2 linked regions of the Homo sapiens genome follow. The protein of the gene in region 2 interacts with the protein of the main gene of each other region in a pairwise test. Each region holds a gene or a part of one and is shown on either strand. Other genes may lie near its edges. The genes, in order: PEG10 and ACVRL1.

Region 1 (3,919 bases), on a different chromosome or scaffold from region 2:
TCAGGCCTGAAAAGAAAGTGCTCTCTCAGATGGACTCTTGCATGTTAAGACTATGTCTTCACATCATGGTGCAAATCACATGTACCCAATGACTCCGGCTTTGACACAACACCTTACCATCATCATGCCATGATGGCTTCCACAAAGCATTAAACCTGGTAACCAGAGATTACTGGTGGCTCCAGCGTTGTTAGATGTTCATGAAATGTGACCACCTCTCAATCACCTTTGAGGGCTAAAGAGTAGCACATCAAAAGGACTCCAAAATCCCATACCCAACTCTTAAGAGATTTGTCCTGGTACTTCAGAAAGAATTTTCATGAGTGTTCTTAATTGGCTGGAAAAGCACCAGCTGACGTTTTGGAAGAATCTATCCATGTGTCTGCCTCCATATGCATCTGGGCATTTCATCTTCAGTCCCCTCATTAGACTGTAGCATTAGGATGTGTGGAGAGAGGAGAAATGATTTAGCACCCAGATTCACACTCCTATGCCTGGAAGGGGGACATCTTTGAAGAAGAGGAATTAGGGCTGTGGACACTGTCTTGAGGATGTGGACTTCCTTAGTGAGCTCCACATTACTTGATGGTAACCACTTCAAAAGGATCAGAATCCACGTAATGAAAAAGGTCCCTCTAGAGGATGGAGCTGATGTGAAGCTGCCAATGGATGAAAAGCCTCAGAAAGCAACTCAAAGGACTCAAAGCAACGGACAACACAAGAGTTGTCTTCAGCCCAGTGACACCTCTGATGTCCCCTGGAAGCTTTGTGCTAACCTGGGACTGCCTGACTTCCTTTAGCCTGGTCCCTTGCTACTACCTTGAACTGTTTTATCTAACCTCTCTTTTTCTGTTTAATTCTTTGCTACTGCCATTGACCCTGCTGCAGGATTTGTGTCATTTTCCTGCCTGGTTGCTGAGACTCCATTTTGCTGCCACACACAGAGATGTAAGAGGCAGGCTTTAATTGCCAAAGCACAGTTTGAGCAGTAGAAAACAACATGGTGTATATCTCAAATTGCCTGACATGAAGAGGAGTCTAACGGTGAAGTTTCACTTTTCATCAGCATCATCTTTCACATGTTCATTATCATCTGCTCTTATTCTTGCATGTTTAAACACTTAAAATTTTTAGTATAATTTTTAGTGTGTTTTGAAGTGGTGACTAGGCTTTCAAAAACTTCCATTGAATTACAAAGCACTATCCAGTTCTTATTGTTAAACTAAGTAAAAATGATAAGTAACATAGTGTAAAATATTCCTTTACTGTGAACTTCTTACAATGCTGTGAATGAGAGGCTCCTCAGAACTGGAGCATTTGTATAATAATTCATCCTGTTCATCTTCAATTTTAACATCATATATAATTTCAATTCTATCAATTGGGCCTTTAAAAATCATATAAAAGGATATAAAATTTGAAAAGAGAAACCTAATTGGCTATTTAATCCAAAACAACTTTTTTTTTCCTTCAATGGAATCAGAAAGCTTGTCAATCACTCATGTGTTTTAGAGTAATTACTTTTAAAATGGTGCATTTGTGCTTCTGAACTATTTTGAAGAGTCACTTCTGTTTACCTCAAGTATCAATTCATCCTCCATACATTTGAATTCAAGTTGTTTTTTTGTCAAATTTACAGTTGTCAATTGATCTTCAAGCTGCAGGGTGCCTAGAAATGGGCCGTTGTCTGTAGCCCTGGCATGTGCACACGGACATTTGCCACCACTGCAAGCAAAAGTCTGGAGAAGTTCACCAACGACAAGAACGATTAGGGAAAATATGCTGCTGTGGGTTAACAACTCAGAAAGTCCCTGATCCACATTTGGCTGTTTACTAAAGCTTGTGATTAACTTTTTGGCAGTGTGTACTATGCTCTATTGCTATATATGCTATCTATAAATGTAGATGTTAAGGATAAGTAATTCTAAATTTATTATTCTATAGTTTTGAAGTTTGGTTAAGTTTCCTTTCACTCAATTGATTTATTTTGTTGTTAATCAAATTTATGTTAATTGGATCCTTTAAATTTTTTTTGGCATTTTCCAACAAAAATGGCTTTATTCATAAGAAAGGAAAAAAATCAATGGAATTTGATATCTAAAGAAGTTAGAAAGGGAGCAAAATAAAAAACATAAAGGAGATAGATGAATTAGTAAGCAAATCAGTAGTCGAGTTTTTCAAACTGGCAAAATTAATTAATTGACTTTTAGCCCAAATTTACATTGTTAATTAAATCAAGAAGGAAGAAGATCTAAGAGCTCCCATTGATAGGCAAGCCTAGAGAGAACTAGCTAAATTTATCATGCTAGGATATTGAAACACAGAAAGTTTACATACATTTATGAAGGGTCAATTTAGTTTGGACAGTGAGGTATTTGTCTTAGTGGAAAAAAGGAGAATTAGTCTGATCAAATCGTGAAGTAATACAGTGAACTTGCAGGTGCACAAAATAAGAGGGCCACATCTATATGGTGCAGTCTGGAATTCTGTTTAAGTTTGTAGGTACCTCTTGGACTTCTGAATTGATCCAGTTGTCATCCACCACAGACATCTCACATCAGATACAGACAGTTCCAAGATTGACAACAGAGAACAACCTGCTGGAAAGACCTGGGCAGAAATGGAGAGCCCTGCGGGAACCATGCTACATTTTCATCTAAAGAGAGAATGCACATCTGATGAGACTGAAAGTTCTTTGTTGTTTTAGATTGTAGAATGGTATTGAATTGGTCTGTGGAAAATTGCATTGCTTTTATTTCTTTGTGTAATCAAGTTTAAGTAATAGGGGATATATAATCATAAGCATTTTAGGGTGGGAGGGACTATTAAGTAATTTTAAGTGGGTGGGGTTATTTAGAATGTTAGAATAATATTATGTATTAGATATCGCTATAAGTGGACATGCGTACTTACTTGTAACCCTTTACCCTATAATTGCTATCCTTAAAGATTTCAAATAAACTCGGAGGGAACTGCAGGGAGACCAACTTATTTAGAGCGAATTGGACATGGATAAAAACCCCAGTGGGAGAAAGTTCAAAGGTGATTAGATTAATAATTTAATAGAGGATGAGTGACCTCTGATAAATTACTGCTAGAATGAACTTGTCAATGATGGATGGTAAATTTTCATGGAAGTTATAAAAGTGATAAATAAAAACCCTTGCTTTTACCCCTGTCAGTAGCCCTCCTCCTACCACTGAACCCCATTGCCCCTACCCCTCCTTCTAACTTTATTGCTGTATTCTCTTCACTCTATATTTCTCTCTATTTGCTAATATTGCATTGCTGTTACAATAAAAATTCAATAAAGATTTAGTGGTTAAGTGCAAACTGTGTCCTGATCATTTCAGCATCTACCAGCATCAAGGGAATGGGGTGGGGTAGGGTGGGGAAGGCTGAGAGAGTAGGGAGAGTGGGAGAGGCTAGAGTAGGGTGGGGCTGTGGGGAGGGTGGGATTGTTGGAAGGGTAGGGAGGTAGGAGGGTGGGTAGGGTAGGGGTGGAATTGAGTTTGGGATAGTGGGGTGGTGGTATAAAGAACATTATTGATTACAACCTAGTATGAATTATATAGCCAGAATACTCCAGGAAATCAGTTATTCCAGCTGCAAAAGTTTAACATATAAAATAAAGATACACAATTAATAGCAACTCTGGTTGCTATTATCACAAACTTTAACATCAGTTTTACTTTAAATACTTGAGATTCATTAATATAAAATTATGAAGTATTAGGACATAGAAGAAGAGTTTCAAAGGGCTGCTAGGTTCATATGACATGACAGTCACATAAATATGACTGTTTATTGGGAAGATAGTGACTAAAAGGAAAAATCTAGAACTAATGAAAACACACAACTAAAAACTGTCTACCCTCAGAAGCAGGCTACCAGAGTAGCTATCCATCAAGCAGAGCTC
Region 2 (3,919 bases):
CAAAGTGCAGGCCCGGGCTCTGAGTCTGGGACTGGGATTCCCTGGCTTGGCACTCTGACTCTGGAGCCTCTTTTGCATCCTGTCCCGGGAGTGGTAGGGGGTGCACCATGCTGGCCATAGGGGTGGGGAGAGAGCCAGGCGTCAGGGAGCCTGCCGCTTTGAGCAGGCCAGACAGCAGGGGATCAGGTTTCAGCCCAGCTGTATTTTTGGCTGGGTGGGCTGGGGGCCGAGCAGGCAGGCGCAGCTGCCCATCCCCAGCACACACCACACTCACACTACCTCTACCCAGATAGGGCACCATCCACTGCCCCCCACCCCCCCAGCCCCCTGCAGGCAGAAAGGAATCAGGTGCTCCTGGGCTATTGAATCACTTTAGGCTTCTCTGGACTGTTGCTAATTTTTTGTAGTGTCTTCTTGATCCGCAGCGCGGTGAGTCGGGCAGAGGGGTTTGGGTACCAGCACTCCCGCATCATCTGAGCTAGGCCTGAGAGGACCTGGGGGTTGGGAGAGAGGTGCAGAGGAGAGGAGGCAGAGAGAGAGATGCAGAGAAGAGGAGGGGGTCGGGAGAGAGATGCAGAGGGAGGTGGGTCAGAGAAGATGGGAAGAAGATGAGGAGGATGGCCGGTAATGGGGAGACATAAGCAGGAGAGAAAGGATGAGAGGAGGGAGATGAGAGCATTGGAAAGGAGAGCGAGAGGAAAGACAAGTGGTGAGAGAGAGAACAGAGGATGACAAAAAAATAAAAAATGGAAGAGGAAGAGAGTAGAGTGAGAAAGGGATGGAGAAAGACAGGGCGGACAGAAAGAGAGAACTCAGATCTTCAGGAGCACTCAAGCCCCCTTGGGCAAGCAGTGTCTGTGAAACACCTTACCCCCATCCCCACCTTTGCCAAGATCCATAGGAAGGGGCCGATTCTTCAAGCCTGGGGGCTCCCACATCCCCATCCACAGCCTAAGACCCCAGTGCAGAGGGCAGTGTCTTCCAGCCCCTCCATCAGCCATGGCTGGGCCCAGGGGACTGTGGAAGTGGGAACTGCCCTAAAAATGCAAGTGTCCAGGGAGCAACCCATCCCAAAAAGCTCATCAACCCATCCCAGGAAGCTCATCAACCCATCCCAGGGCCTGAAATGAGCTGGCCCCACTTCTGGCTCCTGAAAGTGAGTGTATGTGTGTGTGTACAGGAATGCATACATGTGGCTTTTTGCGGATATGTTGTACAGAAATGTATGTCTATGTACACATAGATGTATACATGTATAGAATATATTCATTCTTTCAGTAAATATTTATTAGCACCTATTGTGAGCCAGATACTATGATAGGTAATAGGGACATAAGGGTGAGCAAAAGACACGTTCTTTGTCCTCACGGGGCCAACAGTCTGGCATATATGCGCATGTGTATATTTCTGTGAGTGTATGTTCAGAAGGATATTCACGCTTGTATGTGTTGATATACGTGTGTGTGTCTTTGTACAAGTGAAGTGTTTTGAGAAAAAACAAGGACAAACAACAACAAAACAGCAACAAACAAAGACAAATAGCAACAAAAATACCACAGTGGTCAGGTGTGGAGGCTCACACCTATAATCCCAACACTTTGGGAGGCTGAGGCAGGAGGATCACTTGAGCCCAAGAGTTTGAGATAAGCCTGAGCAACATAAAAGACCTTGTCTCTACAAAAAATTTTAAAAATTAGCCAGGTGTGGTGGTGTGCACTACACCTAGCTACTGGGGAGGCTGAGGCAGTAGGATCAGTTGAGCCGAGGAGTTTGAGGTTACAGTGAGCTATGACTGTGCCACTGCACCCCAGCCTGGGTGACAAGAGCAAACAAAACCCTGACTCTCAAACACACACACACACACACACACACACACACACACACACACAGAGCCACAGATAGCCTCTGACTTTTCACAGGGAAGGTGAAGGTTCTTAAAATCCCAGAATGACCAGATGGCCCTGGGGGCAGGGAGCATGGGCCAGGGTTGAAAGAGGGAGTACCTAGAGAGGTGCCCTAACCAGGACACTCAGTATCTATGAGATGAAGCAGAGGCCTCAGACACAAGTTCCTGGGCCCAGAAATCCCAGCCATGAGCCACCACCCCACGCCATCCTAGTCCCAGCAGAGGCCTCACCGGGTCTGCAGCCAGCCGGTTAGGGATGGTGGGGGTCTGCTGATCCACACACACCACCTTCTTCATGTCCTCAAAGCTGGGGTCATTGGGCACCACATCATAGAAGGGTGGTCTATAGTCCTCCACGATGCCTGGAAATGGAGAATGGACAGGACAATCACTTGGGACTCTAAGGAGGCCCAATACCACCCAGAGGAGAGCCTTTTCTACCCTCTATCCAAGGGCCAGAAACCAGTGGCCTGGACACGCTACCCCTGAGAGGGACAGTATAATGCAATAAATGTGTTTCTAACTAATGTTAATGACTGCCATTTGTTTTGCACATGGCATGTGCCAGATATTCTGCTGTAAACACTTTACATGCTTTATCCTGTTTGTCCTCACAACAGCCCTGTGGGGTGGGTACTAGTATTACCTCCATTTTACAGATGAAGAAACTGATGCTCAGAGAAGGGGGGCCCAAGGTTCCACAGCTAGTAATGGCAGAGGCAAGACTCAAACCCATCTCGGATTCCTAGGCCAGCCTTGTTCCAGTCTTCCCTCAGCTGCCTTCCACCCAGTGCCCGGGACTGCTCCCAGGCCCCAACTATCACACATGCCTGATAATAATAACACCAAATGTTTACTGAGCACTGTATGCCAGGTGCTGTCCTAAGAGCTCTGCATGAAATCCTCACAGCAGCCCTATGAGGTAGGTAATACTATGAGCTCCACTTTATAAGCCAAGAAATGAAGGCCAGAGAGTTTAAGAAACTTGTCTAAGATCAACAGATAGTAAGTGACAGGGCTAGGATTTAAGCCCACAGTCTAACACCAAAGCATGTGCTCTTGACCTCTGAGCTGCACTTATCTTTTTACCCAGGTCCACATAACATCACCCAGTGTCAGGGATGGCACAGGCCTCTGCTGACTCCTGCAGCCAGCACTGACCCCCTCCTCTTGGTATCCCAAGTTCACAGTTTTTAGTAGGAGCTTTCTGAAAACAATGCCGGTGGAGCCGCAGACAGCCCCGTGCCCCATCCTGTTTCCCAGCCTGAGGCTGGGGGCCATGGCCACACAGGCCGCAACCTCGATAGAGCCTTCGCCAGCTGTTCTCCCCATGGCCAGCTTCCAGGCCGGCCCCTGTGCCGCTCACGCCCTAATCAGTGCTGCACAGAGGCCTGAATGTGTCTAATGGGCCTTTAATCAGTGCCGGGGCTGACACCAGATTACAGTGTTTATAATGCGCCGCGAGTCCGTGTGGGGCTGATGGAGCTTCCCCCTCCACCCCAGGCAGCCTCCTCCCAGCCTTTCCTTTCTGCCCTGCAGCCTGGTCCAAGGAGCCTTGGCTTCTTCCAGGTTCCTCTTTCCCCCGATCCCGGTCTCCTTAGAGCCCACTCTGGCAATTCATGCCCGGAGTCTTGAGGAATCTAAGCACCTCGTGAGTCTCCCCAAGGGACCGGTGACACCACAGCCTCTGTTTTCAGTTGATGACCACCGAGGACAAATGAAGTCTGGCATGGGGCTGGCTCCTGGTAGATGCTCAGGAAATGAGGACATCCTTGTCCCCAAGAAGCAGGGCTCCAGCCATATCCTGAGGATTGTCCCCAACCTGTCACGACTCCTGGAAGTCCCTCACCATGGACAGCCTCCTCAAAGGTTGACAATGCTCCCACCAGTCTAGACGACCCACCTATCCTCCGTCCACTCCAGGGCTGAGAGAACATCGACCTCAGGGCTGCCTGCCCAGGGCAGGTCTCTCTACCTGTCGCAGTCCCTCTAAATCAGAGTCCCCTGTGGCAA

The links.
Region 1: the proteins of ACVRL1 (region 2) and PEG10 interact in a two-hybrid assay, tested with the Homo sapiens proteins (one study listed by BioGRID).

What each region holds. Positions count from the first base shown.
Region 1 is NC_000007.14:94,666,363-94,670,281, forward strand, and holds the end of PEG10 (retrotransposon-derived protein PEG10), read left to right. Parts: 3' UTR 1-3,333; downstream 3,334-3,919.
Region 2 is NC_000012.12:51,917,334-51,921,252, reverse strand, and holds part of ACVRL1 (activin receptor type-1-like isoform 1 precursor), read right to left. Parts: intron 3,711-3,919; coding exon of another isoform or gene 3,555-3,710; intron 2,269-3,554; coding exon 2,138-2,268; coding exon of another isoform or gene 2,030-2,137; exon of another isoform or gene 1,266-2,029; intron 495-1,265; coding exon 360-494; 3' UTR 1-359. UniProt on the Homo sapiens protein: Type I receptor for TGF-beta family ligands BMP9/GDF2 and BMP10 and important regulator of normal blood vessel development. On ligand binding, forms a receptor complex consisting of two type II and two type I transmembrane serine/threonine kinases.